Linked DNA regions of Homo sapiens. The protein of the gene in region 2 purifies or fractionates together with the protein of the main gene of each other region. This does not show direct contact. Each region holds a gene or a part of one and is shown on either strand. Other genes may lie near its edges.

Region 1 (7,024 bases), on a different chromosome or scaffold from region 2:
GGTTCTCCTGGTGTGGTGGCCAACATTGCAACCCTGGAATCAGCGGAGTAGGTTCCATCCTGCCCTTGCCTGCCCCCAGGCCCTGAAGGCTGCTCAGCCTCTTGTGGTGCAAAGTCCTCTGCTGTTAGTGATAAGAGTGGGTAAACAGACCTGCGGGGGGAGACTCATCAAGCACTTTGGCCAGTGCCTGGCGTGCATATGCTGTGTGCTTGGCGTTAGCAGGTGGTTCTTACTCCGGGACAGGCTCTGCTGGTAGGTGAGCTGTTTGCCAATCCAGGAGCAAGGGGTGAATCTGGAATTGCAGATTTCTGTTCTTCTAGGCAGGTCACCAGACTTCCTTTTTTTTAGGGAAAAAGTGGAAGACTGTAGCTGTCCTTTTGGTGTTCAAAGCACTCACGTTTCTAGATTCTTTAAGAAAAAGCTCACTCTGGTGTCTGGCTTCAGCTGGCTGCTGCTTTCAACAGTTGAGCAGTCACCAAGCAGAGATTTGGAGCAGCGGAGATGGAAGGGTTGTCCTGTTCAGAACTAAAGGCAACTTCTGTAGTTGGTCATGATGCTCAGGATGAGGCTGGTGAAAGTGGTCTTTCATTTTCCAAACCGCCAGTGTCAGGATCTTCGCTGCCATGGTCTTGTCTTTCAGATGCGATGGATGAGCTTGGTCCAGGGTGGTTGGGGATTCCACTTGGGGAAGAATAAAAAATGTTCATGTTCGTTGGGAAGGAGCGCAGAGGCAGGATGTCCCCTGGCGGGGGGGCTTGTGTGCTGTGTAAGGAACTTGTACTTGATCACCAGGGCCATGAGCATCAAGCAGCAGCATCAGTTATTTTTACAGATCAGTAACAATTGTGGACACCAGCGCAGGGAGACCAGCGGTGTGAGGGATCCAGGTGAGAGGGGATGATAACCTGAACAAGGTTCATGGCAGGCCTGGAGAGGAGCCCCAAGAGGGCAGCAGAGGTGGAATTGGGAAGATTGGTATCTGGCAGCAGGGCTATGCAACAAGGAGGAGCAGCTGAGGATGAGGCCCAGATTTCTGGCTGTGTGGTGGCGGTGCGCCTTCACTAAGGGCCGGGCGTGGGGAGCAGGTTTTGGCCATTGAATTTGTGTCTGTGCAGTGTCCCAAGAGGCAAACTCCTAGCAGGCCGTTGATGTGAAATGCAAGTGGGAGGCAGAATAGGAGTGTCTCTCAAGTCATGGGAGGGAGGCAGAGAGCCTCAGCCTCCTAGGAGCACAGGTGTGTCAGGGGCAAGGGAAGCCCAGGAGAAGCTGGCCAGGAGGAGGCAAGACCAAGGAAGGAGGAGTTCCCGAGATGCGGAATGTCCTGGAAGCTAAGGGAAGAGACCACTTTCCCAGGGAAGGTGAGTGACAGGAGAGGAGGCCAGCAAACAGGATGCCGTTGACCTTTGCAAGAGCAGATTTGGTGCCACGGCAAGGGAGCCATTTGGGGAATGAATGAGGTGTGGAAAGGTACGAGAACCAATGTAGACAGCCCTCCACAGAGTGTGGCTGCAGAGAGAAGTGACTGGCAGAGGATGTGGGACAGGGGAGGAGGCCTTCTGCTGTTTGGTTTTAAGATGGGCAAGTCCAGTAGGTTCAGATTGAAATGCAGGTTGAAATGTAGCTAGGAAGGAAATTAGAGAGGCCAGGGTCCGGGCTGCTCCTGTTCTGGGCTGGGTGGCCTCCAGGCAGGTCACAAGCAGCCCGATGCAGGAGGATTTGGGGTTGAGTGCCTCTGCTTGAAACAGACCTTTCTAAAAGCTGCCTGACAACATGCTGAAAAGGATCCCCTTGGAAGACAGTGGGGGAGGTTTTTGGAACCTGGAGGTTAAATGGGGAGCTCTTTAATCCCCCTTGACTTCCCCGCTCCTGTGGTGAGTGAGGGCCATTCGTGGGCAGACTGGCCATGTCTTTCTGGTGACATCCCGGAGCTTTTTTCTCTGCTTCTCTAGTTCAGTGCAGTCCTTTGGCAAATATCTTTATTTTTTCCGTGTTAAAGTCCTTTTTGTCCTTCCTAACCTTCTTAAGCATTCCTCCACTTAGGAACAAAGGGCATATTGCAGTCTTTGTGGCGTGTGAGGTTTTAAAAATCGATTCCCTTTCCATCTCTCTGCCAAGCTAATGAGCCTCTGAATTTCGTGGAGCTGGAGTCCCTGCCATCTTGGCAGCTTTCATTCCGGGTCTTGTTTCTTTTGCTGTGTCTGCTAGGGAACTTTGTAGTCTGGGGGCAAGGTAACCTCCCCAGCAAGGCGCCCCTCAATCAGTGCCAACTTGAGATGACGTGCTGATTATTTTGTGCAGACGTCACCAGGAAGAGTGAGTGCTTTGGAGCCATAATAAATAACTTGGACAGCTGCTCCTTGACTTACAAATGGAGTTATGTCCTGATAAACCCATTGTAAGTTGAAAATACCTTAAGTCAAAAATGTGTTTGATACATCTAACCTACCAAACCAAATAGTTCAGCCTGGCCCACCTTAAACATGCTCAGAACACTTACTTTAGCCTGCAGTTGGGCAAAGTCATCTAACACAAAACTATTTTAAAATAAAGTGTTGAATATCTCATGTAATTTATTGACTGCTGTACTGAAAGTGAAAACAGAATGGTTATATGTGTTTGAAGTATGGTTTCTACTGAATGCATATTGCTTTTGAACCATCAAATTTGAAAAATTGTAATTTGAACCATTGTTAAGTAAGGGACCTTAATGTACAAAAGAACATTATTATTATTATTATTATTTTTTTTTTTTTTTTGAGATGGAGTGTTGCTCTCTTGCCAGGCTGGAGTGCAGTGGCACAATCTTGGCTCACTGCAACCTCTGCCTCCCGGGTTCAAGTGATTCTTCTGCCTCAGCCTCCTGAGTAGCTGGGACTACAGGCGTGCACCACCACGCCCAGCTAACTTTTTTATGTTTTTAGGAGAGATGGAGTTTCACAATGTTGGCCAGGATAGTTTCGATCTCTTGACCTTATGATCCGCCCGTCTCGGCCTCCCAAAGTGCTGGGATTACAGGTGTGAGCCACTGCGCCTGGCCAAGAACATTATTATTATTATTTTTGAGACAGAGTCTTGCTCTGTCACCTGGGTTGGAGTGCAGTGATGTGATCGTGGCTCACTGTAGCCTCTACCTCCTGGGCTCAAGTGATCCTTCCACTTCAGCCTCCTGAGTAAGCTGGGGCCACAGGTGAACACCACCATCCCCAGCTAATTTTTAATTTTATGTAGAGATTGGGGTCTCCCTATGTTGCCCAGGCTGGTCTCAAACTCCTGGCCTCAAGCGATCCTCCCAGCTCAGCTTCCCAAAGAGATGGGATTACAGGTGTTTCCCACTGTGCCTGGCCGCAGTCTCTGCTTTAAAGGAACCCAGCTCTGGTTTCCTGTCTGCTGGGAGCCAGATGATTGCCATGATGCGGAAAAGAGTCTGACCAGCTCCAACAGCAGTGAGGAGCGTCAGCACACTACTTTTGTCTTTCTCACAGTATTCATTCATTCACTGAGGTGCTTTAGAAAACAGAAGAGAGAAGGTATTCCAACTGTTATTAACATCATAGAAATTGGGCATTATGAAAGGGTACTTTGGCATTCAAATAATTGGGGTACCCTGGAGCCTGCTAACTAAAATTAAACTTGAAGCTTTTCCAGGGCTTTCTGCTTGACGTTGGCAAGACACACTGTGAGCTGCTCGTGGCTCCTTGGAGCTGGCCTGTGGGCAGGCATCAGTGTGAGTGGTTCCACTCTGGTGGCTCAGCAGATGAGAGGTGACCTTGAGTCCCTGCAGCTGCCCTTGCTCTGTCCCTCTGCTGTCATCTTTGGCTGCCATCTAGACCCCTCAGACATTCTTCTTGGGATTCAGTCACACGACCACTGTTCCAGGGGATCTTCCAGGGCCTGCTTTCTTCTGTTCGTGATAGAATCATCCCAGTGTGGCAGGCCATGGAGAATTGTGTGCCTTGTTCTAGAGAAGTTTGAAAGCAAAGGAGTGAGTCCCTTTCTGTAGGAAACCTGCCAAAGGGGCTGGCTTCCTGGGAGAAGGGAGCCGAGATGAGGCCTCTCTGCGCCGAGGTGGCCATTTAGATCCTGGGCTTTGGTGCTGGAATCCAAGACATTAACCAAAACCACATGTCGCACTTGGCCTTCCTGGCCTGGCCTGGCCTGACAGGTTTGTACTCTGGTGGGGCAGCCGTGGCCCATGTAGAGACGGCACCCAGCACAAGCACTGAGGGTTAGAAGGTGTCTAGAAACGCGGTTCAGCAGGGCTGAGTGGCAATCTCCAGGGGCCCTAGCCTTCCTCCCGGAAAGCGGGGAGACGATTCATGTGGCCATTTCCAGCTTTTTGTCCAGGGCAATGCAAGCATCCTGGAGAACTGTGCTTTATTTAATCAAGCCCATGGGATGTAAAGTATGATCCACACAACAACACAAACTTGACTGTTTGATTTCCCAGGAGAGTCTTGAAGCAGATACCCCCTCACAGGCAGGTCCAGGCCAGTTACCCCTCAGCGTTTCCACTAGTGACAAACGAGGGCCTGGTTGAATGAGTTGCTCCCATCCCCCTGTCCTGGACCTGTGCCGCCCAGGCCGGCAGCCCCCTCCACCTGGGGCTGTGCTACCTAAAGGTGGAGTCTGAGTTGAGATGTGCTGTGAGCATAAAACACACCAGATTCAGAGAGTGCAACATAGACAAAATGTCTATGAATATTTTTTGTATTGATTACGTATTGAAATGCTATTTTGACTATATTGGGTTACTTACAATATATTATTAAACTTAATTTTATGTGTTTCTTTTGACTTTTTTAATGCAGCTATTCAGATTTTAAATTACTTAGGTGGCTTGCATTCTGTTTTTTTCAGACGGGTCTAACGTAGTGTGGATGAAAAGCACTTATCTGAGACATAGTAAATTCCTGAAGCCTCCCCAGCATTCCCCAGCACTCTGAGACTTGGGCTTTTTTCCAAGCTTACATTCCCTCACTAAGCAAACAAACCAAATAGGAAGCTAACCTGAGAAAGACATATAGGGTAAGGTGGAAAATCTCAGCCTGGTGCTCCTCCTCCCTGCACAGCTTGGCTCCCGAGTGGCCAGCTACCACTCTTCTCATCCCCTAGTTGACAGCCCCTAATGGGCAGCTTTAAGAATTAGGAAAACCAAAAGATACACAGACACACACACATACACACAGTCTATCTGTCTGTCTGTCTATCTTTCTATCTCTTTCTAATTTCTATCATAAAGAAGGACAAGAAGCCATGCACATTTATGTAGGATGGACAGCATATATATTTACTTTAAGAAGAAAAAGACTTAGGAAATCCTCCCAAGGACAGTCAGGCTGGGTGGCCCCACTCAGCTGCCCCGTGTGGACTGTCGCAGGAGAGCCTGTGTTTCCAGAGTCAGTGCCCTTGTTAGCCTGCATGTGCAGGCTGGCTGATGTGTGAGGCATTTGTGTTCTCCACTGGAGGGAGGCATCCTTGTCTAAACTGCATCCATGTCATGGAGGTGCACGGACCTGGAGCTGGATCCCAGCTCTGCCAGCTCTGCCTGGGGGGCCTTGTGCAGATGGGCATGAGCCCACTGCTTCATTTTCAACCTGTGTGAAAATAAGGCCAGTTCTCATAATCACGCTGGGAGTCTTAAGTAAAAACCTAGAAAAGAGTGTGGCTCTGTGCCTGGCACGTTGTAGGAGCATGAACGTTAGCCGTGTCCTTTTGGTGGGCCTATACCAGGGGAGATGAATCAAACTGGGGGGGGCCCAGCAAGCTGTTCCATGAGTGTCCTCCCCCCACAGGGAAGTCCCACCTGGCCATCGTGCAGAAGGTGAACAACGAGGGTGAAGGCGACCCCTTCTACGAGGTCCTGGGCCTGGTCACCCTGGAGGACGTGATCGAGGAGATCATCAGGTCCGAGATCCTGGACGAGTCTGAAGACTACCGTGAGTCCAGACTCTTGGCAGTTCTGTCTCCGCTGGGCCTGCACACTTCCCCAGGCGTATGTTGCGTCAGAGGCCAGTGGGCCTCTGTGCTGCTGGAACCCAGCAAGATCCACAGCCAGGCCCCCTTCTGAGCCCTGCATGGGTGCTGGCAGAGAGCCCCCTTGCAGGAGGGCTCACGCCTGCACCTCCACACAAGCATGGTTGCCTGTGCCAGCGGTGGCCTTGCAATCCCAGGGCTCACCTGGGGCTCCATTAGCAGCAGTCCTATTAGTTTCCTCCATTACTGAGAGAGCTCTGCCCTTCATGGGCCTTTCCCAGTCTTCTGTCTCCCTAGGTGCTTTTGTTTTTGCAGGTTCTTTTGTACATTACAGAAATGTCCCCTGAAAGAACCCACTGTTTGCCATGAAGAAAGTCTTCCTGGCTGGGCGCAGTGGCTCACGCCTGTAATCCCAGCTCTTTGGGAGGCCCAGGCAGGCAGATCACGAGATCGGGAGTTCGAGACCAGCCTGGCCAATATGGTGAAACTCCATCTCTGCTAAAAATACAAACATTAGCTGGGCGTGGTGGTGCGTGCCTGTAGTCTCACATACTCAGGAGGCTGAGGCAGAAGAATCGCTTGAACCTAGGAGGCAGAGGTTGCAGTGAGTTGAGATCACGCCACTGCGCTCCAGCCTGAGAGACTGGAGGGGGTGGAAATAAGTCTTCCCAAAGCAGCTGATCCCGTGCCCTTGATTGCATGGTAAAAGTGTCCGCCTGTTAGCATGGTGGCTGAGGTCTGCAGGGCTGTACAGAGTCTGTGCGTCATGGCCGGGCCGCCTGCCCTGCATGCTTCCAGAAGTATCGCTTTAATCATGCGTCGATTTTCAAACATAGCATCTCTAGTTCCGTTCTTGAGACTGCCATAGGCATGGGGTCTCCAGGTTAATTGCTGCCCATTTGCATTGGTAATCCTTGAATACATGCTTTATAGTGAGAAGTTTTTCAGTGGCCAGAGAGGCTGTTATTATTTTTTAATTTTTTTTTTTTATTTTGAGACGGTCTTGCTCTGTCATCCAGGCTGGAGTACAGTGGCGCATTCATGGCTTACT
Region 2 (7,024 bases):
TGATATTGGCATAAAAATGGTTTAGTTCTTAAGGGGGAACTTAGAGAAAATATAAATACATTCATATTTGTTTATATTTATTGGTTACAGTAGTTACCTTGCTTTTGAGACCTGCCACTTCCACCTTCAACATCCCTTTGTCCGCCTTCTCTGAGTTGGATTTCAGTTTTGAGTTGTATATGTGAAATTTTGGTTTTAAAATACAAAAGAACATTATTAAAATTATGAATATTTTCTTTACAGTTATAAATGAGAGTTGTTTCCTTTTTAGATTCATAAGCATACATTCTTATGATATTTCACATAACAAGTTGATTTTCAGAGACTCATTTTCCTCGTCTTCAGTTTAATGGGAATGATAACAGATTGTTAAGGATAAAGTGAGATTCTAAATATAGGACTTAAATCAGTCTAAGAAAAGGATATAAAAGCATAAAGTTGGAAAAGAACTTAGATGTTTCAGTTTATGAGTTAAGTAAATTATGCAAGACTAATAACTTCAGAGTTATCTGGAGTTTGTATTAATGTGTAAAAATGTTTTTGTTAGTTGGAAAAATCAACATAAAGTGTATGTAATTACAATGTAAAGAAAACAACTATCGAAAGGGATAATTATTAGAATCATATAATTATATATTATATATAGATAGTATATATACAGAGAATATAACTAGATAGAATATATATGAATATATATATGAATTTCACAAAAATGTAACAATGGGTTTGGTTTTTTTTTCTGAGGAATCTTGGTAATAGATCATGGATTTCAGTTTAATCTATCTGACTGCTTGTTTTATGCTGATTGATTTAATCTGTACTCACCCCTTGAGTTTTGCAATTCAAGTAAAAGTCGATGAAGCGGCTCAGGCCCTGCTTTAGAAAAATAGTTGTGTACTTAAATAGTGTAAAACCCTAATGTATTTCTTTTGAATTGGAAAATAACTTATTCTCTCTTTCTGTCTTTTTCTTTTAAACAGCAATTCTGTGGTGTTCTTGGTCACACATTTATGGAGTTTCTGAAGGGCAGTGGAGATTACTGCCAGGCACAGCACGACCTCTATGCAGACAAGTGAACTGTAGAAACTGATTACTGCTCCACCAAGAAGCCCCCATAAGAGTGGTTATCCTGGACACAGAAGTGTTGAATTGAAATCCACAGAGCATTTTACAAGAGTTCTGACCTGGATGGGGTAAACCTCAGTGCACTTCTTTTCTGTTGGCCTCAGTATTACTGGATTGAAGAATTGCTGCTTCTTGTTAGGAGGTTCATTTCACTTATCATTACTTACAACTTCATACTCAAAGCACTGAGAATTTCAAGTGGAGTATATTGAAGTAGACTTCAGTTTCTTTGCATCATTTCTGTATTCAATTTTTTTAATTATTTCATAACCCTATTGAGTGTTTTTTAACTAAATTAACATGGCTCGAATGAACCGCCCAGCTCCTGTGGAAGTCACATACAAGAACATGAGATTTCTTATTACACACAATCCAACCAATGCGACCTTAAACAAATTTATAGAGGTAAGATTTGATATGTTTTAGTAGCTTAAATTGATTGCAATATAATAGTGGGACTTATAGCTAACAAAATAAAAACTACTTTGGAAAAAATGAGATGATATACCTACAATTCCAGTTCCCAGAAATAAATGTCAATGTCTTCTATAGGTTAGAGGTATATTTGTACATTTTGAGAAGGGCATGTGCTTGAGTTAATAGTTATTGTACCTGAGTTTGCTTGAATTGGTATGTGGACAGTAAAACAGTATAGCTCTTACTTATCTTGTAAGAAATTTACATGGGAAAGGTTGCCATTTATGGATTTTTTATATATCTGCTTAACCTAATGACTAATGCCATAAACCAGTTGGTTTTTCTTGAACCCCATCTGATGCTTAGAATCCAATTTTCAACTACAAATTCTGTTCCTTCCTAATGGTAGCTATGTAGCCAAAACTCTACCTGCCTCTTTTTACTAGGAGAAAGGAATTGAATGCTGAATAATATATCGGGATGTGCACATGTTTTATTTTATAAATACCTACAGTTGTTAAGAAATAGCAAATAGGCCTCTCAGAACATAATGGAAATACTTTTTTTTCCTTTTTTTGAGATGGAGTCTCGTTCTGTCACCCAGGCTGGAGTGCAGTGGCATGATCTCAGCCCACTGCAACCTCTGCCTCCCGGGTTCAAGCAATTCTCCTGCCTCAGCCTCCCAAGTAGCTGAGACTACAGGCGTACGCCACCTTGCCCAGCTAATTTTTGTATTTTTAGATGTAGTTTCACCATATTGGCCAGGCTGGTCTCGAACTCCTGACCTCAGGTGAGCCACCACGCCTGGCTGGGAAATACTTTAATGGTACTTTAATTTTTATTACTATATATTATATATACACTAATATATACTATATAGTGTATATAATAGTATATTATATTAGTAATATGTAATTAGTAATAATGCATTTTGAAGCCTGTAGTTTTAAATGGTATGTGGGCTTTTTTACTGTAGTTAAGACTTCATTCAATGTAAATCAGTAAAGTTTAAGGAGTGAGTATAATTGAGTGAAGTCAGATTACCCGATTAGTTATAAATAATGCCTTTAGTTACATTTACCTTTGTCTGCATTGCTGCTAGCCCCTTTTGGTTAATGTTTCATCCCAATCCGGTATTACCATGACTGTAAACAACTTCAGTGTATGAAGGGGGCACACAATTTAAACAAAAGAAGGAAAACTTTTCCAGTTTATTAAAAATATGTATGGTATTTAATATTCACTTTTCTTTTTATATTCTAGCATTGTCACTTAAAACAAAATTTGCTTTTGTGTTAAACATAAATGGATTCTAGCATTCTTTAAATGATCTTCTGTTAACCAGCATACTTACTGATCAGAGATGATCAGAATATAAAATGTTGAGTTATAGTGATGTGGTTAAACATTAAGATTTTTTTAATGTACGTTTTATCCAGGAACTTAAGAAGTATGGAGTTACCACAATAGTAAGAGTATGTGAAGCAACTTATGACACTACTCTTGTGGAGAAAGAAGGTATCCATGTTCTTGTAAGTATTTAACAGTTCTTATGGGTTTATGGTGCTGTGCTACAAAAGTTTATTCAAATAGTAAATTCAAATAAATATCTATTTAAGTCATAAATAGACCTCAAAAAGCTAAAAACAAATATTATATTATTGTGCAGAATCTTAATTTCTAAATAAAGGTGAAAAGCTAAGCAAGGATTTGAAGTTGTGAAACATTTTTGTAAAGATTGAGCATTTAGTCACATTTGGTAGACAACAGGGTTTAATAAGATTTGATTAAACATTAAAATGAGAATGCTTTTGAAAACATTTCCATGTTAGAAATTTAGAATTATTACTACAGTGTTTATATTAATGATCTAAAATGTTTAAATATTCTTCTGACTTAGGATTGGCCTTTTGATGATGGTGCACCACCATCCAACCAGATTGTTGATGACTGGTTAAGTCTTGTGAAAATTAAGTTTCGTGAAGAACCTGGTTGTTGTATTGCTGTTCATTGCGTTGCAGGCCTTGGGAGGTAAATGAATTTATCAATTTGATTCTAGGTAAAAATCTATTGATAATGAAAATACAGAAACTTGAAAAATTCTTATAATTTTTTAATATAAAGTCAACATTTGTCATAGGTATTACTTAAATAGGAAGGGTGGTAGATAATACTTCTGAGTTGGGGAATGTTTGGAGAAATAAATTTACAAAGATCTGATTTTGAAAAAACTATTTATCAAAATTCTTACCTCACCAGAGCTCCAGTACTTGTTGCCCTAGCATTAATTGAAGGTGGAATGAAATACGAAGATGCAGTACAATTCATAAGACAGTAAGTAATGGATTCTCTTTTCATTTGTACTCTCTTTCATTTCCTTGTTGAGTGTCAGTGAGTTTAATAGTCTAATAGCCCATTTAATCATTATGATTATTTTTTGAGATAGTATTAAAACCAGGAAATCAAGATCTTACATTCTTTTTTGCATTTCATGCAGTTGCTCATATTACTAAGATTCTAATCCAACAAGAGTTTTTGAATTATTGTTTTGCTTTAAATACTTGATTGAATATGTTGGTTATTTTGTATTTTTATTGAGGTATAATTAAGATACATTTAAAGATACAATAAAATGCACAGGTCTCCAAAGGAGACCAGTTGACAATAACAGCCAAATTAACCATCCAATACAACACATAGAATATTTTGAGTGCTGTAGAACATGCCTTTGTGGCTTTTGTAGTCATCTTCCCTGCTACCAGAGGCAACTTCTGACTTCACTATAAATTAGTTTTGTCTTTTCGTGGACTTACGTGTAAATGGATTTGTGAGTCGACTGTTGTAACCAATACTCAAACGAAGATATAAAGAAAATTAACTTTTTATGATTTTTTCCATTTACACTGATGTGCCTGTTCATATTCCTTTCTGCATCAGGTCACAGCCTAATTAATCAAAAGATAAATTGCCACAAGAGAGGTGATGGTTGTCTATAAGACACTAAATATTACTGTAGGGGGCTTTTGCCTTGTTTCATTTTTTTTTTTTTTTCCTCCCAGAAAGCGGCGTGGAGCTTTTAACAGCAAGCAACTTCTGTATTTGGAGAAGTATCGTCCTAAAATGCGGCTGCGTTTCAAAGATTCCAACGGTCATAGAAACAACTGTTGCATTCAATAAAATTGGGGTGCCTAATGCTACTGGAAGTGGAACTTGAGATAGGGCCTAATTTGTTATACATATTAGCCAACATGTTGGCTTAGTAAGTCTAATGAAGCTTCCATAGGAGTATTGAAAGGCAGTTTTACCAGGCCTCAAGCTAGACAGATTTGGCAACCTCTGTATTTGGGTTACAGTCAACCTATTTGGATACTTGGCAAAAGATTCTTGCTGTCAGCATATAAAATGTGCTTGTCATTTGTATCAATTGACCTTTCCCCAAATCATGCAGTATTGAGTTATGACTTGTTAAATCTATTCCCATGCCAGAATCTTATCAATACATAAGAAATTTAGGAAGATTAGGTGCCAAAATACCCAGCACAATACTTGTATATTTTTAGTACCATACAGAAGTAAAATCCCAGGAACTATGAACACTAGACCTTATGTGGTTTATTCCTTCAATCATTTCAAACATTGAAAGTAGGGCCTACATGGTTATTTGCCTGCTCACTTTATGTTTACATCTCCCACATTCATACCAATATACGTCAGGTTTGCTTAACCATTGATTTTTTTTTTTTTTTACCAAGTCTTACAGTGATTATTTTACGTGTTTCCATGTATCTCACTTTGTGCTGTATTAAAAAAACCTCCATTTTGAAAATCTACGTTGTACAGAAGCACATGTCTTTAATGTCTTCAGACAAAAAAGCCTTACATTAATTTAATGTTTGCACTCTGAGGTGCAACTTAACAGGGAGGGCCTGAGAAAAGAATGGGAGGGGGCTATTAATTATTTTTAGCAAAATGTTGCCTTTGTCTTGTGCAAACATGTAGAATATGCTCTTTAATTTAGTAAAATATTTTTTTAAAAGGTAGAGATGCTTTGTTATTGTAATCATAAACTTCCTGAAATTCTTGTAATTTTTTTCCCATACTTATCAGAAGTGTGTTTACCAACTTATTTTTGTTTGAAAGTGTGATTTTTTTTTTCCTTCCCAACCTCTCTTGCAAAAAAAGAAATGGGTTTCTGCTAATGAATTGAGCAGACATCTAATATTTTATATGCCTTTTGAGCTGTGTAACTTAATATTTGGATACTTGACAATTTGTTTTATTATGTAATTGATAAAATGGTGATGTGTATTAATGTTAGTTCAACCATATATTTATACTGTCTGGGGATGTGTGGTTATAGTTCTGTGGGAGAAATAATTTTGTCAGTGTTCACCAGCTTGTAAAAACTTAGTGCGAGAGCTGAAACATCTAAATAAATAATGACATGCATTTATCATCATTGAGATTGGTTTGCTTAAAATTAACTTATTTTGTAGAAGACAAAATGAATTGCACTTCACTTAATGTGTGTCCTCATCTTTTTACAAATAAATGAAGGATTATAAATGATGTCAGCATTTTAGTAAACTTTTAGACAAAATTTGTTAGGGTCATTCATGAAAACTTTAATACTAAAAGCACTTTCCATTATATACTTTTTAAAGGTCTAGATAATTTTGAACCAATTTATTATTGTGTACTGAGGAGAAATAATGTATAGTAGAGGACAGCCTTGGTTTGTAAAGCTCAGTTCCACTAGTTCATGGTTTTGTGCAACTTCTGAGCCTCAGTTTTCTCCTTTGCAAATTAATAATTACATACCTTTATAGATTTTGAAATTAATTTAAATATTAGTATTTGGTACATGAAGGCTTAATGTTAAGTTTCCTTTAATGATCCACAATAATCCCTTTGATCACGTTAATCTAAATCTAGATGTCTTTGTCTAATTTTTTTTGAATAGCAGTTATAAATGTAAAGGACTCAAAGTTTAAGTAAAAAGTGATACTCCACCTTGTGTTTCAAAGAATTTAGTTCCACCTCTTCATACCAGTTTAACACTTAATATATTTCATTGGATTTTAGACAGGGCAAAAGGAAGAACAGGGGCCTCTGGAGGCCCTTGGTTATTTAAATCTTGGATTATTTGTGATAGTAATCACAAATTTTTGGCTAATTTTTAACCTGAGGTTTTGTTTTTTTTTTAAAGGAAATGCAGCCTAGTCTTGAGAACATAATTTTATATAATCAATTACTAAATGTTAAACTATTACCACACAGCCCATAAAACAGCATTTGCGTTTATTGAGAGAGAGGATGTGCCATCATGATTAATGAAAACTATCTTTTGAGTTTGAAAAGAAATTAATTTGCAGTGTTTGGATTGTATATATGGTGCTAAAAATAAATTAATTTACTTTATAAACCTTATCTGTACATTATACGATGTGATGAAATTTGCTTTTTATCCAAATATTTTGTA
Region 3 (7,733 bases), on a different chromosome or scaffold from region 2:
CCACCCATCACCTAGACTTAACAGGTGGTAATTGCAATACCATAATTCACTTGACAAAGTTAATAATGATTTCTTTGTGTCATGTAATAGTCTATATTTCATCTTCCCTGGTTGTAGCTGGTTTGTGTATGGAATTGTTTGACAGATAAAGGTCAAGCCTCTCAGAGAAGGGGCAGCTTTTTCTAATTCTTCCCATGGGGTCATATGGGGCTGGTCCTAGATGACCTCATGGGTCATCCCCCACTTCTATGTCTCCCCCATCTGTAGCTACTTCCATATTTGCACTAAAGGAGATTCAGCTACAAAAGGAGGCCAGCCTTCGGTCTTCGTCGATGCCTGACTCAGGTAGGTATAGCCCCTTGTCTTCCTCCCTGCCCCACCCACCTACCTGCTTACCCACCAACAGCCATCTGCTCTGCTTTCCCCCACAGGCAGGCCAGCTTTCCGCGTGGTGGACACCGAGTTCTAAGCCACAGACCGAGGCCCCAGCAGGCAGCGGCTGGAGGGATGCCACACCCCTCACAGGGCAGCCCCCAACTACATCTTCCCTGCTTACTCTCTGCCTACCTGCCTGAGCCATGTTCACCTGCCCACTTGTCCCCTGCTGCCTGCCCAAACACCCCACCATTGGCCTGTCAACCCACCCATTGGCCTGTCTGCTGGGTGCTAACAAAGCTCTCATCACTCCTTCACTTGGTCTGTCTGTCTCTGTCTTGGTAGTTGCCGGTGGACAGCATGGCCGTGCCAGCCTCCCACACTGAGGCCAGGTCTACCCCCCATCATACCAGCCCCCAGGACCACTACCCCACGGCCAGCCAGGGGTCCAGAGCTAGCCCAGGCTGGGGATCTCGACTCAGACAAGATGGTGACAATGCCTTGAGTCTGAGGCATCCTCTGCCTGCTTTCCTGCCTGCCCCACCTGCCTCATATTGTGTGGGCCTTTTTTTGTTTGTTTCATTCATTGTTTTTTTTTTTTTAATTATTTTAAATGAGATTTTTGTTTTTTTTAAATGCAATATCTCTGTATACAGACTGGCTGGGCCCCACCCCCTGCGTGTGGCCCTCCCACAGTATTTTGTGCAATGAAGCCCTGCTCCCAGCCTTTCAGAGACAGGGACACAGCCCCTATTTGGAACCCTGATCATCACCAGACCCTGGGATTGGCTATGGGAAAGCATGCCACAGCCACTCGCCTTCCTACCCCCGCCCGCCATCCCCAGTTGCAGGGGGATCTGGGGACTACCAGAGACTCTGGGAAATGGACAAGGTGGGGGGCCCCACTCTTTCTCTCCTGCAGTCCCGTAGCTGGGGCCTCCTTCCTTCTCAGGGTCTCCCCAGCCCAGTCCCCTTGCTCCCATCCCACTCGGTGCTGTTGGGTAGGGGCCCTGCCAGGAACTGACCAGCTCAGCGAGGAGCCATAATGTGCATATGTGCACAAGCAGGGTTGGGGGAGGGGGGTGTGAGGGGTTGTGCCCAGGTGTTGCCCCCTATCTCCTGGGGAGGGTGAGGCAGGGCAGGGACAGTCTCCAGGGTCAGTCCCTGGATGGGTGGTTACCTCCCCTTCCTCCACCCTAAGCCCTGGGGCCCTGAAATGGGGTGGGAGGGCAGGGGTGGGAGCCCTCCTAGTGGGTTTGGGGGGTTGGGTTCCTGAATGCACCATAATCGCTGTATGAAATATTAAAAAGTCTAAAGTGAAAAGCCTGCTTGCAAATCCCTGTAGGGGTGGAGGGTGGCCGAGCTGGGGTGATTATTGGGACCTTGGAGAATTCATACCTCATCACCACTGTCTAGGAAAACACTGGGAGTGGGCCAGGGACACGTCACGACTATGAAAAAGGCATCTAAGGTATTGCATATGTAACAGTAGAACATGGAGTTGAAGCAGGTAGGGCAGGCTGAATGGTGTTGATGGGTTGAGAAGCAGAAAGGGGAGTTAGATTTGCCCAGGAATATGAGGAAGCCTGATAAGAGGGTGGAGGCAGGGAAGTGGAGAGACGATGTTTGAAAGACACTGGACGGCCCAATAGAACCATGGATGGGAAGATGAGGCAAAGGCCCAGTATGGCCATCTGACTAGGAAACCATGAAGAGGAGGGAATGTTCAGGACGGTAGGGGGTAGATTTTGGACCACTGAGTAGGTAGAGAAATCCTTTAATACATGGATCAAATTAAGCAGTGGGGCCATAGATGGACCTGGAAATTTCAATTATTAGTGTCCAGGAAGTAACAGAAACCATGGGCATGGGTGAGAGAGTTTGCAAGAGGCCAGGGATCAATGACACAACCTGGGGTTTGCCCTCAGATATGAGGATAATTGAAACTTATTTTCTTTGTCCTGTGAGTTCCAGCCCCAGTCCCACCATCTTGGGCAAAGCCAAGGATTGTTTTCTAAGCAGAAGAGGGGGTGAGCAGGGCCAGGCAAATACTGCAAGTAATGGCAACCCTAATTAAGTGGCTGTTTACTAAAGCCCAGTGGTGGGGGCCCATGAACTTCTAATCACTCTACTGTGTGTGTTTGTTTTTTGAGACAGAGTCTCTGTCGCCCAGGCTGGAATGTGGCGGCACAATCTTGGCTCACTGCAACCTTTGCCTCCTGGGTTCAAGCGATTTTCCTGCCTCAGCCTCCTGAGTAGCTGGGATTACAGGCGTGCACAACCACGCCCACCTAATTTTTTATTTTTAGTAAAGATGGGGTTTCACCATATTGACCAGGTTAGTCTCGAACTCCTGACCTCAAGTGATCCACCCACCTCGGCTTCCCAAAGTGCTGTGATTACAGGTGTGAGCCACCAAGCCCAGCCTCTACCGTGTCTTTCTAAGCACTTTAGTGATGTTTCAGCTTGCAGCCTCATGGTGCCATGATGACTGCCATGTCCCCAGAGATGGAAAAGCAAGCAGGGAAGACAGAACACCTTCCTTACCTGTCTGTGTTCTTTTAACGGCTGGAACTTCCACAAGCTCCTCAGCAGACTTCCTGTGCCATTTCTTGGCTAGAATCAGATGACATGGCCACTTCTGGCAGCAAGGGAGGATGGGAAAAGGAGGGCCTTGCAAAGGGGGACAGGATTGCCAGGCTGGATTTAAAAGGTCTAGAACTCACCCAACTGCTCTGGGAAGTGGTAGGGTCACTGGTGTGGGCAGAGGTTGGCCTCTGGAAGGTGGAAAAAAAAAAACGGTCTAGGGCTGGGAAAGGAGGTCTCTTGGATTTACCTGGCTGCCCAGATAAATGGGGAGGGGGAGTCTGCAGAGGGGCAATGGGGAGAATCAATTCAGAGAATCTGACAAGATTCAACTGGGCTTGAAGAGCAGCTATCTGCCATGTGTCTGACTCAACTCAAATGCCACTTTCTTTGGGGACCCTTAAGTGAAAGGCCTGCTCCCTTTCCTCACCCAGAGCTTACACAACTGAGTTTGTGACCCCTCATCTATGCCAGGTCTGGGCTGGGGGCTGGAATCACAGTAATAAAGACACAATCCCTGCCCCGCAGAGATTAACTGAAAATAGGTAAATTATGAAATTGTGAGGGGGAAGGGAGGTTCGAAATTAAAGTCATCATCAACGGGGCTGGCAGCCCCAGCAGAGGAAAGAATAGCATAGCCTAGAGCAGTGGTTCTCAACCAGAGACATTTTTCCCCCAAAGGACATTTGGTAATGTCTGGAGATACTTGGTTGTCCTGAGGGGTACTACTTGGTATCTAGTAGGTAGAGGCCAGGGATGCTGCTACATATCCTGCAATGCCCACAACAAAGAAATGACAGTGCTGAGGTTGAGAGACCCTGGCCTAGTCCAAGGGTTCTCAAACTTTGGGTCTCGGGATTCCTTTATGTTCTTAAAAGTTTAAGATATTCAAAAGAGTTTTTGCTTATGTCATATAGCCTCTGGATTCAGAAGCCTCTGGATAATCACACTGTACACCCCTGAGAGAATGAGAGTGAAAAAGTATTGTGAAAATAGTTTTCATTTTGTGAAACCCCAAGAGGATTTTTGGACCGGTAGACAGGCTGGGACCACTGGGACCACACGGTTGGAGAATGTTTGGCCTGGTGTTTAAGGTCACAGCTCTGAAACCAGATTTCTCAAGTCTAAACTGCAGCTCCACCACTAATTAGCTGAGGGACGTTTCTGGTACTCAGCGTCCCCATTGTTACCCATGGGTGACAAGGACAGTACCTGCTGCCTGAGGCTACTATTTTAGTCCAATAAAGCACTTAAACTGGGCGGACAGCTAGTTTAGTTATGATTGCTATGACTCCAACAAACATAGGGCCTGGGGCTAACTTGTCTTCAACACCTTGTCTAGTGAATAAATCTAGTTCAGGAAGAGAAACAACAGCCCGCAGGCCTCGGTGGGTCTCTGGAGGTGGAAACCTCTTTTGCATTGGGTTTTGATGGTACAATGAAGGGCATTCTGATCAGGCTAACAAAAACACTGCTCCCAGGGTAGGAGTCCTAGCCCACCTCGGGAACCTCAGCCTCCACTTTCCATGCCACCTGTGCCCTAAGTCTACAGGGCGTTAGGACCCCACAAGGCACTTTTGTCTTTCTTGGTTCCCACTGAAGATTTTACCCCACCTAGCCCTTCGACGCGTCTGTGCACGGGGCCATTTCCAATATGGCAGTAGCCCCGCGACTGTTTGGGGGGCTCTGCTTCCGTTTCCGGGACCAGAATCCGGAAGTGGCTGTTGAGGGGCGTCTTCCAATCTCGCACAGCTGCGTTGGCTGTAGAAGAGAACGGACGGCGATGGCGACGGTCGCAGCAAATCCAGCTGCTGCTGCGGCGGCTGTGGCGGCGGCAGCGGCGGTGACTGAGGATAGAGAGCCACAGCACGAGGAGCTGCCAGGCCTGGACAGCCAGTGGCGCCAGATAGAAAACGGCGAGAGTGGGCGAGAACGTCCACTGCGGGCCGGCGAAAGCTGGTGAGGCTGGGCTGCGGTGGAGCCTCGGCAGAGGGAACGGTGGGGGCATTGACAACCGCTGGGGATTCGGCGGCCGAGGGCCGCGGGAAAGCTGCTGCGGGGTGCGGGGGCGGGGGAGTGGCCGGCGGGACAGCGGGCTAAAGGGGCGGGGAAGTGCCTTTGAATGAATCGCAACGTCTGGAAAAGGGGCGGGGCCTGTGTGGTGCAGTCTGACGCCTGAGAACAAAATGGGGTTTGTTGTGATGAGACCAGTTTCGGTCCTGGAGGTGGGGCCGGGCCTGCGTAGTGAAACTGCGTAGGAACCTGGGAAGAAGGTGGGTTCTGCTACATAAGGCGGGGGCGCGGCCTGCGCTGCGTAATGCAACTTTTGGGGGCGAGGAGCGGTTTCCGATTGCTCCGGGGCGGCTGGGAACGAGGCGAGCTTTGTGACGTCAGCAGAAGAGCGGGATGGAGCCGAACGGTCCGAGGGAGGGAGCGGGGACCTCCGTGGGGGAGGGGGGAGGAGCCTGGAGCCTGGGAACGAGGTTAGGTTGGTGACGTGAGCTGAGGGGCGTGCTCTGAGGCCGAGGGACGACAGTGGAGGGGAGGTGGTGCCTATGAGGCAGAAAATGGCGCCTGCGAATAAGCAAAGTTTATGACGCGCCGTGGTTTTTGATTCTGGCGGAAGCCTTCCCGAGTCGAGAGAACGTGCAGGTGATTAGCACCGGAGGGGCCTTCCATGTTTAATTGGTTTTCTGTGTTGGTACTGTTTTGTTTTTAGAATCAAGAAAAAGTCGTTTTTTTAAAAAATAGAATTTTGATAAATCGGCTTGTTTTACTGATTTCTTGCTAAACAGTCCTTCTTGAAATTTACTGCTTCTGAGTTCATTTTATTTCTCGCCGAGTTGCATCTCGTTTTTTAATTGTGAAATACGTAAGACTTAAAAAGATTATATAAAACATTTACGCAGCCCAGATTGACGGACATCCTGTTAAAATAAACGGCCTACACTCTTCAAAAATGTCAGGATCATGAAAGACAAAGGCTGAAGAACTGTTCCAAATTGAAGGAATTAATGCAATTTAACGAGTCATGATAACTAAATGCAACATGTGATCCTCGATTGGATCCTGGAACAGAAAAAAAAATTATTTTAAAAATCAATTTTTTATCATAAGATTATTTTTGTCTCTTTTACTGTAAAAGGCAATGGAAACGTCGGTGAAATTTTATTAAAGTGGGTAGATACTAGTACTACTAATAATTGTGATCATTGTGGCTGTGAAAAATAATATCCTTGTTTATAGGAAATACTGAAAAATTTAGGGATAAGAACGCATCGTGTAAGCAGTTTATTCTCAAATGCCTGAAAAATTAGCATATATAAATTTATATATGGCGAGGGGAAATAAAATTGGGGAGATGTTGGTCAAAGGATACAACATTTCAGTTAGACAAGAAAAATAAGTTCAGATCTATTGTACAACTATAGTTAATAAATTCATTGTATACTTGAAAATTACTGAGAGAAGATTTTACATGTTCTACCACCCCCCAAAAAATAAGTATGTGACGTAATGGATGTGTTAATTGCCTTGACTTAGTCATTCCACAATGTATACATAAGTCAAAACTTCATGCTGTACACTCTAAATATATGCAATTTTTGTCCATTTTAAAATAAATAAAAATACCAAAAAATGCATGTAAAGAAACAACGATTGAGCAAATGAGTAAAATATTAGATTTGGAGAATCTGGATGAAGGACATATGGGGATTCTCTGTATTATTTTTGCCATTTTTCTCAATCTATTTCAAAGTTTAAAAATTAAATAATAAATAAAAACGTGTGAATTCACCATCCATGTTAAGATTCAGAACACTGTCTTAAGAAATCCTTCTGTGCCCCTCCCAGATGGAAATTCCCCTCCTTGCTCCATGGGAAACTGTTATCCTGAATTTTGAGTTAACAGTCTCTTCCTTTTCTTTAATGTTTTACCACAGCTGTATGCATCCCTAAGCGGTATGTATTGTCTAAGCTTTCACTTTATACATATATGGAATACATATATATAAAATTCTACTGGATGCATACTGTGAGCCCTTATCTTCGCATCGGGTAATACATGGTATCCACATGGCATCATTGGTGATGTTAACCTTGATCACTTGGTTATGGTAGTGTTGGCCAGCTTTCTCAACTGTAAAGGTACCATTTTCCTCTTTACATATGCAGTAATTATTTTTAAAACATGTATCATGTCCAGCCATTCCTCAAAATACTCTTAACAGCTTCCCATCTCTTGCAGCGTAGATGCTAAAATCCTTACAATGAATTGCAAGCCTTTATGAAGCTGGTCTCCTGCTTGCATTCTGATGTCTTCCCATATCTCTCCTCTGATTACGCACTCCCTCCCTGTCTCCATCCAGGCCGGCCATATTGGACTCTTGCTGTTCCTCAAACACATCTAACCTTAGGGCTTTTTCGAGTGAGGTTTACTCACTACAGAGTTCTTTAATAACCACACCAGTGAAATGTGTATCTCTGTTACTGGGGAGATGAGTTGAGATTTTCCAAATCGGGAATACAAACCCAAGCCGTGTTTTTCTGCCATTACGTCACACTTTTCCAGCAAGAAAAAGCCTCATTTCATCCTGAGAATAAACAAAATAACCACAGTGTTTTGTAACTCATTTGAAGATGTTCAAAAGGGCCTTGAGGCTTTGATCCTTGCCTCTTCCTACCTTTGTAGCCTTGTGATTGTGTCACTGGTAGGACATGACATCCTGTCATCCTTGATAATACGCTTTAAAATTACCCCACCAGTACTG
Region 4 (7,024 bases), on a different chromosome or scaffold from region 2:
GTGGGGGTGGGGGCGGCTTTGGGAGTGCAGACCCAGGAATCAGGTTTTCCCAGGTACCCGAGCCTGGGACAGAAAAGCAGTGAGGATCTGTGCCCCACCCCCACCCTAAGCCTTGGGACCTGAAGACTTCTCCTATTGCTTAGTTGGGAACCTGATTAGGACCCTCCAGGGCAACTTCCTCCTCACTGCCTCTGTGGTGTTTGGGACTATGGTTTGTGACACACCCAGTAGCACCTTCCCATCAGTTCATTTGGAATCTGGATCCAACCAGTATGGATTGGTCTGACCAGTCTCCCAGTCTTGATCAGCAGGGCTGAGCTCTCTTGGGTTGGAGCCTCCTGGGTCTTGAGAGGGCTGTCTTTGGGCTCTGTCTTGTCAAGTGCCCTTTCATTAAGTTGGGAAAACAGAGCTAGCATCTCTTAGGCCGTAGCAGAGCTCTGCTGAGCCAGAGTCCCCAGGTTCAGTTTACTCCGGGAAACTCTGCTTAACAGAGGCCAGTAGCCTGAGGCCAAGCCCTGGAGCAGTGCTGGTAAACCCAGGGAACTGCACACAGGCTGCCCAGCACAGCAGGCCGCCCTGGAGATGGTGATAGTCCCCCCTCTCTACCCACCCCCGACAAATGAACAGGCCCTGCGGCTTTATGCCATCACTTACTTCCCCATTCTCAGAGGTCTTGGAAAACCAGTTTTAACTCATTGCACACCGGGTTCCCTGCAGCGTGGCCTCTTCCAGACCTTCCAATCTGGCGTCCACCTTCTTAGTCTGAGATTACCCAGGACACAGCACACACCTAGTGTACATCTGCAATTTAAGAGTTTCTTGGCCAGGCGCGGTGGCTCATGCCTGTAATCCCAGCACTTTGGGAGGGCGAGGCGGACAGATCACGAGGTCAGGAGATTGAGACCATCCTGGCTAACATGGTGAAACCCCGTCTCTACTAAAAATACAAAAAATTATCCAGCCGTGGTGGCACATGCCTGTAGCCCCAGCTAGTCAGGAGGCTGAGGCAGGAGAATCGCTTGAACCCGGGAGGCAGAGGTTGCAGTGAGCCCAGATCGCACCACTGCACTCCAGCTTGGGCGACTGAGCAAGACTCTGTTTCAAAAAAAAAAGAGTTTAGGAGTCTGGTGTTGGGAATGGTTTTTTTTTTTTTTTTTTTTTTTTTTTTTTTTTTTTTTTTTTGCTAAGAGAAACAAGTGAGCAAAGTTAGAACAGCTGGCATTGTTTTATTTGTTTGTTTGTTGTTGTTTTTTTTTTTTGAGACGGAGTTTTGCTCTTGTTGTCCAGGCTGGAGTGTAATGGCACAATCTCGGCTCGCTGCAACCTCTACCTCCCGGGTTAAAGCGATTCTTCTGCCTCAGCCTCCTGAGTAGCTGGGGTTACGGGCATGTGCCACCACCCCTGGCTAATTTTGTTTATTTAGTAGAGACGGGGTTTCGCCATGTTGGTCAGGCTGGTCTTGAACTCCCGACCTCAGGTGATCCACCCGCCTTGGCCTCCCAAAGTGCTGGGATTACCGGTGTGAGCCACCCTGCCCAGCCTTTCAGCTGGCATTGTTAACAGCACCAGAGTCAGAGCTGGGGCAACTGTCTAGCCCAGCATCTCTCTCTGAGGGTCTGTCCTGGACCCTCCTCCACCCCAGGTTGGGTGAGGGTCCTGAGCCTAGCTTTGCCAGAGTCCTTCTGCCCCACAAGTAATCCTCTTTTAGGGCCTTTGTATTCTTTCTTTCCCCTTTCCAGCATTATAAGCTCCTTGAGGGTAGAGGCCATGCCTTCTTAGTGTTTTCACCACTCAGTGCTTGGTAAAGAGACGGGTCTCCAGTAAGTGTTGGACAAATGAATGAACAATGGATGACTCTCTGGCAAGCCCCACTGGCCTTTTTGCTGTTCTTTTTTTCTTTCTTTCTTTCTTTCTTTTTTTTTTTTTTGAGACGGAGTTTCGCTCTCATTGCCCCGGCTGGAGTGCAATGGCACCATCTCGGCTCACTGCAACCTCCACCTCCGATTCTCCTGTCTCAGCCTCCCGAGTAGCTGGGATTACAGGCGCCCGCCACCACGCCCGGCTATTTTTTGTATTTTTAGTAGAGATGGGGTTTCACCATGTTGGCCAGGCTGGTTGCGAACTCCTGACCTCAGGTGATCCACCCACCTCAGCCTCCCAAAGTGCTGGGATTACAGGTGTGAGCCACCACACCTGGCCTTTTTTTTTTTCTTTTCTTTTTTTTTTTTTTGAGACAGAGTTTCACTCTGGCATGATCTCGGCTCACTGCAACCTCCACCTCCCAGGTTCAAGCTATTCTTGTGCCTCAGCCTCCCAAGTAACAGGGATTACAGGTGCATGCTACCACATCTGGCTGATTTTTGTATTTTTAGTAGAGATGGGGTTTCACCATGTTAGCTAGGCTAGTCTTGAACTCCTGACCTCAAGCGATCTGCCCACCTCGGCCTCCCAAAGTGCTGGGATTACAGGTGTGAGCCACCGTGCCTGGCCCTTTTTGCTGTTCTTAAACACACCAGGATGCTCCCACCATGGGGCCTTTGCCCTGGTTGTTTCCTTGGGCTGGAATATTCTTCTCCAGAAGTCAGCATGGCTCACTGTCTTCCCAGGTCACCTCTCAGTGGGGCCTTCTTGCCACCTTGTTTAAAACTGCACCCACCATCCCACCCCAACTTCCTAATCTCCCCTGCCCTGTGCCGATTTCTTCTCTTCTCGTAGCACACATTGCTCTCTAGCATCTATGTAATTTGCTGATTTACTGTGTTGTCTACTGTCTGTCTCCTCCCACTGGCATATAAGTTTCAAAGGGCAGGTCTCTTTGTTTTGCTCATCAATGTATCTCTAGCCCCTAGAATGGCTCTTGGCACATAGTAAGGCCTCCATCCATGGCACTGAGTGAGTAAGTGAGTGAATGAATACCTGTCTGTTTTGGCAGAGGATCATTCCCATTTTAATAGTGTTAGAATTCTGAGGAGCTGATGAGTGCAAAGAAAAATGGGTGTTGTGCACTTACCGGGTTCAGAGTTCCAGCCACACAGGACAGACAGGAGGAGTGCCTGGGATGACATGTCAGGGACTGAGAAGTAGAGTTTGGGGCCTTGAGTGTGATGCATGGTTCCTCTCCATGTGCCTCAGTTTCCCCACCAGTAAGTGGTCTTTGGCCACTGGGGGTTTACACAGCTTCCCTCATTAGATGAGTCATGAATGTGCTCCTACACACTTAGAGACGGGCTAGGGGCATCGATGCAGAGGTAGGGGCCGAGTGTCCCTAGGAGTAAGGCAGGGGTACAGCCTTGCAGCACTTCTGTCTCCCAGCTCACGGCAGTTAGTGCCAGATATCTGTGGAACCCCATGCTGCGTGCAAGACGTGATGCTAGGTGATGCAGGACCACAGGAGTAAGATCATCGAGTTGGTGAGACAAGCCCTCAGGCCTGAGAGTCTCCTGTGATTTGAACCTTGGCCCTTCCGCTTAAACCTCGCCTGGAACTGTTTGCAGTACTGGGTGTTGTGGGTGGGTTTGTCCACCTTGGAATCTCAGAACAAAGCCACCTCCAGCTCCTCCTGCCCCAGTTTGTGTTTTGCCTTCACCACTCTCCCAGACCCTGAAGCTAAGTAATGAAGGAAGAGGGCAGAGCTCTGCACCCCCCTTGCAGCCCACCTTCCAGCTTCTAGCTGTGCCTCACCCTCTGGGACACTCCTTCCCTCCCAGGTACTTAGCTCATCTTTAAACACCTTATCTTTCCCCACCCACCTTATAACCACCTAGACCCTGTATAGACCTGGGTGTAACTCCAGCCAGCCTGGTCACTGACCTGTGAGGTGGCCTTGGACCTGTTACTCCTCCTCTCAGCAAGGTAGTGCAGTATAAATTGGTGGGGAAAAGCTAGAAATATTTTCATTAAAAAAATCCTCCTGGCTGTGGCTCACGCCTGTAATCCTAGCACTTTGGGAGCTCTTTGGGTGGGTCACTTGAGGCTAGGAGTTCGAGACCAGCCTGGCCAACATGGCAAAACCCCATCTTTACTAAAAAAATGCAAAAATTAGCTGGGTATGATGGCACATGCCTATAATCCCAGCTACTGGGGTGGCTGAGGCAGGAGAATCGCTTGAACGGAGGTTGCAGTGAGCTGAGATTGCACCACTGCACTCCAGCCTGGGCGATAGAGCAAGACTCTGTCTCAAAAAACAAAACAAAACGAAACAACAACAACAACAAAACACCCATATTTTCATCTAGGCTGTGTCAGATTTTCCCACTGACTTAATTTTATTCCCGCAACAACTTTATGAAGTTGAGAAAAAACACTGCATGATTTTTGCATTCACTTTTGGTTCCTCTTATCTGACACACCTTAAGTAACTTATCCTCCACACCCCACCCTCCCATCCGCACCTGCTTATTCATCCATTTGTTCAACCAACAGTGACCGTTTTGAAGCCTCTGTGTCAGACACTGTGCAGGCTGTTGGGAATCAGAGATGAATAAAACTGCCCTGTTCACAGAACTCACAGTCTACCAAGGAGAGAGACACGTGAACAACGCCTAGCTGCACAGAGCTCACAGATAGGGTGCCGTGGGGCTGAGGGAGGGCAGGCCTGTGAGATGCTTCTGAAGTGAGAGTAACTAGACTCGTTGATCCTTGTGGAGATCTGGGAGTCAGGGCCCGGAAGTAGTTGTGAAAGTCTGAGGTTTCTAGCTTGGGATTCAGGTTGATTATGTCATTTAACTGCAATCGGGAAAGGGGGACGAAGAGACAGTTTAGTGAGGGCAGAGGGAGGTAAGTGGTGGTCATAATAATGGTGTGACCCGTTGCTGAGCTCCTTCTCCGTGCCCAGCATTGTTTACACTGGAGCTTCTCACACTCGACTGCCTGGACATTTTGTTGAAATGCAGACTTGAACTCAGTGGGTCTGGGTGTGGCCCGAGAGTCTGCATTTCTGACAGGTTCTCAGATGATGCCCATGCTGCTGGCCCTGGACCACACCAGTGTGCAGTAACATCTAGGCAGGCATGCAGGGGAAAATGCCCACGTGAGGCTGAGGAGCAAGGCCAGGACAACGCTAAAAGGTTTAAGAGTCAGCCAAGAGGCCGGGTGCGGTGGCTTACGCCTGTAATCCCAGCACTTTGGGAGGCCGAGGCGGGCGGATCATGAGGTCAGGAGATCGAGACCATCCTGGCTAACACGGTAAAACCCTGTCTCTACTAAAAATACAAAAAATTAGCTGGGTGTGGTGGTGGGCGCCTGTAGTCCCAGCTACTCGGGAGGCTGAGGCAGGAGAATGGTGTGAACCCGGGAGGTGGAGCTTGCAGTGAGCCGAGATCGCGCCACTGCACTCCAGCCTGGGCAACAGAGCGAGACTCCGTCTCAATAAAAAAGGAGTCGGCCAAGAGCAGGCAGAATGGAGAGCTGCTGGGCACAGTGGCTTTGTAATCCCAGCACTTTGGGAGGCTGAGGCAGGTGGATCACCTGAGGTCAGGAGTTCAAGACCAGCCTGACCAACATGGTGAAACCCCGTCTCTACTAAAAATACAAAAATTAGGCGTGGTGGTGGGTGCCTGTAATCCCAGCTACTGCGGAGGCTGAGGCAGGAGAATAGCTTGAATCGGGAGGCGGAGGTTGCAGTGAGCCGAGATCGCGCCATTGCACTCCAGCCTGGGTGACAGAGTGAGACTCTGTCTCAAAAAAAAAAAAAAAAAGAATGTGTGAGAGAGGAAAGGACAGTGCAGGGGGTGTCAGTGTGTAAAAGCCAGGCTGAGGCGACTCCTTGATGGAGACGAAGAGAACCAAGGGGGCACGCTATTCGGGAGCCTCCTTGGAGGGTCAGATGGGGTGAAGACCATGCACAGACTGTGGGATGGGACCTTAGGCTGTGGGGTGCCCAGCGAGAGCAGCCTCGGACAAGTGGTGCCCGAAGGCAGCTTTGCACCGGTTCTCCGTCAGCCCTGCCTGGTAATAGCCTCAATATGGTGATTTGATCTCAAGAAGCTGCCTGGGGGCAGGTGTATCTGAGAGTGACAGGAGCTGGTTAATACTCCGGGTGCAGGCAGAGGTCCCAGCAGGGACAGCTGACAGAGCTGTGGCCAGGCTCCTTCTCACTTTCCCTTTAGTGCAGTGCTGTGGGAAGGGAACATGAGCACGTGGAGGGGCCTGGTGCGTGCCAGCCAGTGGGCAGCTGCACCTCCTTCCTGGCTGGCCCCATGCAGCCTATGGGCGGGTTCCCAAAGAGGAGCCAGCACTGAGAGGACACTCACGTGTCTTCACTTGACAGTTCTCTTCTCAGAGCTCTTGTTTGTGCAATGGAAGGCAATGCTGTGCATCGAGGCCCTGATAGGTTCTTAGTTATTCTGGTGTTTACTTTTCAAAGGTCTCGTATTTTTAACTAGGAAATCCCGCTCCAGTGTTTTTCTGCTCACCTCTGGTCAGGACGGGAAGCACCGAGCAGATGTTTAACCTTGAAAATGGGTGAATACACAGGAGCACAACATCAGGGAATGGCCCTACAGGATCAGCAGGGGGCCCTTGGGAAGGGGAGGCCTGTCTCGTAAGTAAAAGTCTGGGAAGACATTTCAGCGGAATTTGCTAGGGCGGGTAGACATGGCGTTTTCCACTCTGGTACGTGTTGCCCTGGGAGAGCTTGGACAAGACCCGAAGGCTGAGAGGTGAGCCTCACCGTCCTTCGCAGCAGCTTTGGGGGTGTGGCTCAGGCCTCCCGGGCTGCTTCCCCTCCTTTTCTAGACGGACTTGGCGGTGCGGATCCCTGGGTGCCTTCTCTCTGCACCCCTCCCACATGAACCTGGTTGACTGAACAGCAAGGACATCTTTGAGGGGAAGGAAGCCTGGCCCCTCTGAAGGAGTCGCTACTACAGGCCTCCAGTCTCCTTGAGGGCAGGGGCCAGCATGGTTGTCCTGCACTGAGCGCTGGCTCCTGAAAGGCCGCGCAGCCATGGAGAGTGTGTATGGAAAGGCAGCCTGGGCCAGGCCTCTGTCGCTGCCTTGGTGACTGATTTTCGCAGAGCCTCCTGGT

Evidence for each region.
Region 1: the proteins of PTP4A1 (region 2) and CNNM3 purify together in Homo sapiens (affinity purification with mass spectrometry; 6 studies listed by BioGRID and IntAct, with this or other methods). This does not show direct contact.
Region 3: the proteins of PTP4A1 (region 2) and USP11 purify together in Homo sapiens (affinity purification with mass spectrometry, with the first as the bait; 2 studies listed by BioGRID). This does not show direct contact.
Region 4: the proteins of PTP4A1 (region 2) and CNNM4 purify together in Homo sapiens (affinity purification with mass spectrometry; 6 studies listed by BioGRID and IntAct, with this or other methods). This does not show direct contact.

The regions. Positions count from the first base shown.
Region 1 is NC_000002.12:96,819,266-96,826,289, forward strand, and holds part of CNNM3 (metal transporter CNNM3 isoform 1 precursor), read left to right. Parts: intron 1-5,792; coding exon 5,793-5,936; intron 5,937-7,024. UniProt on the Homo sapiens protein: Probable metal transporter.
Region 2 is NC_000006.12:63,575,456-63,582,479, forward strand, and holds part of PTP4A1 (protein tyrosine phosphatase type IVA 1), read left to right. Parts: intron 1-980; coding exon of another isoform or gene 981-1,076; 5' UTR 1,077-1,425; coding exon 1,426-1,530; exon of another isoform or gene 1,531-2,981; coding exon 2,982-3,074; exon of another isoform or gene 3,075-3,442; coding exon 3,443-3,573; exon of another isoform or gene 3,574-3,801; coding exon 3,802-3,876; exon of another isoform or gene 3,877-4,558; coding exon of another isoform or gene 4,559-4,601; coding exon 4,602-4,719; coding exon of another isoform or gene 4,720-4,756; 3' UTR 4,757-7,024. Other genes in the region: uncharacterized LOC128125822, read left to right, coding at 981-1,076. UniProt on the Homo sapiens protein: Protein tyrosine phosphatase which stimulates progression from G1 into S phase during mitosis. May play a role in the development and maintenance of differentiating epithelial tissues.
Region 3 is NC_000023.11:47,228,300-47,236,032, forward strand, and holds the start of USP11 (ubiquitin carboxyl-terminal hydrolase 11), read left to right. Parts: upstream 1-4,709; 5' UTR 4,710-4,744; coding exon 4,745-4,920; intron 4,921-7,733. Other genes in the region: CDK16 (cyclin-dependent kinase 16), read left to right, coding at 268-345, 721-761.
Region 4 is NC_000002.12:96,763,885-96,770,908, forward strand, and holds part of CNNM4 (metal transporter CNNM4 precursor), read left to right. Parts: intron 1-7,024. UniProt on the Homo sapiens protein: Probable metal transporter. The interaction with the metal ion chaperone COX11 suggests that it may play a role in sensory neuron functions. May play a role in biomineralization and retinal function.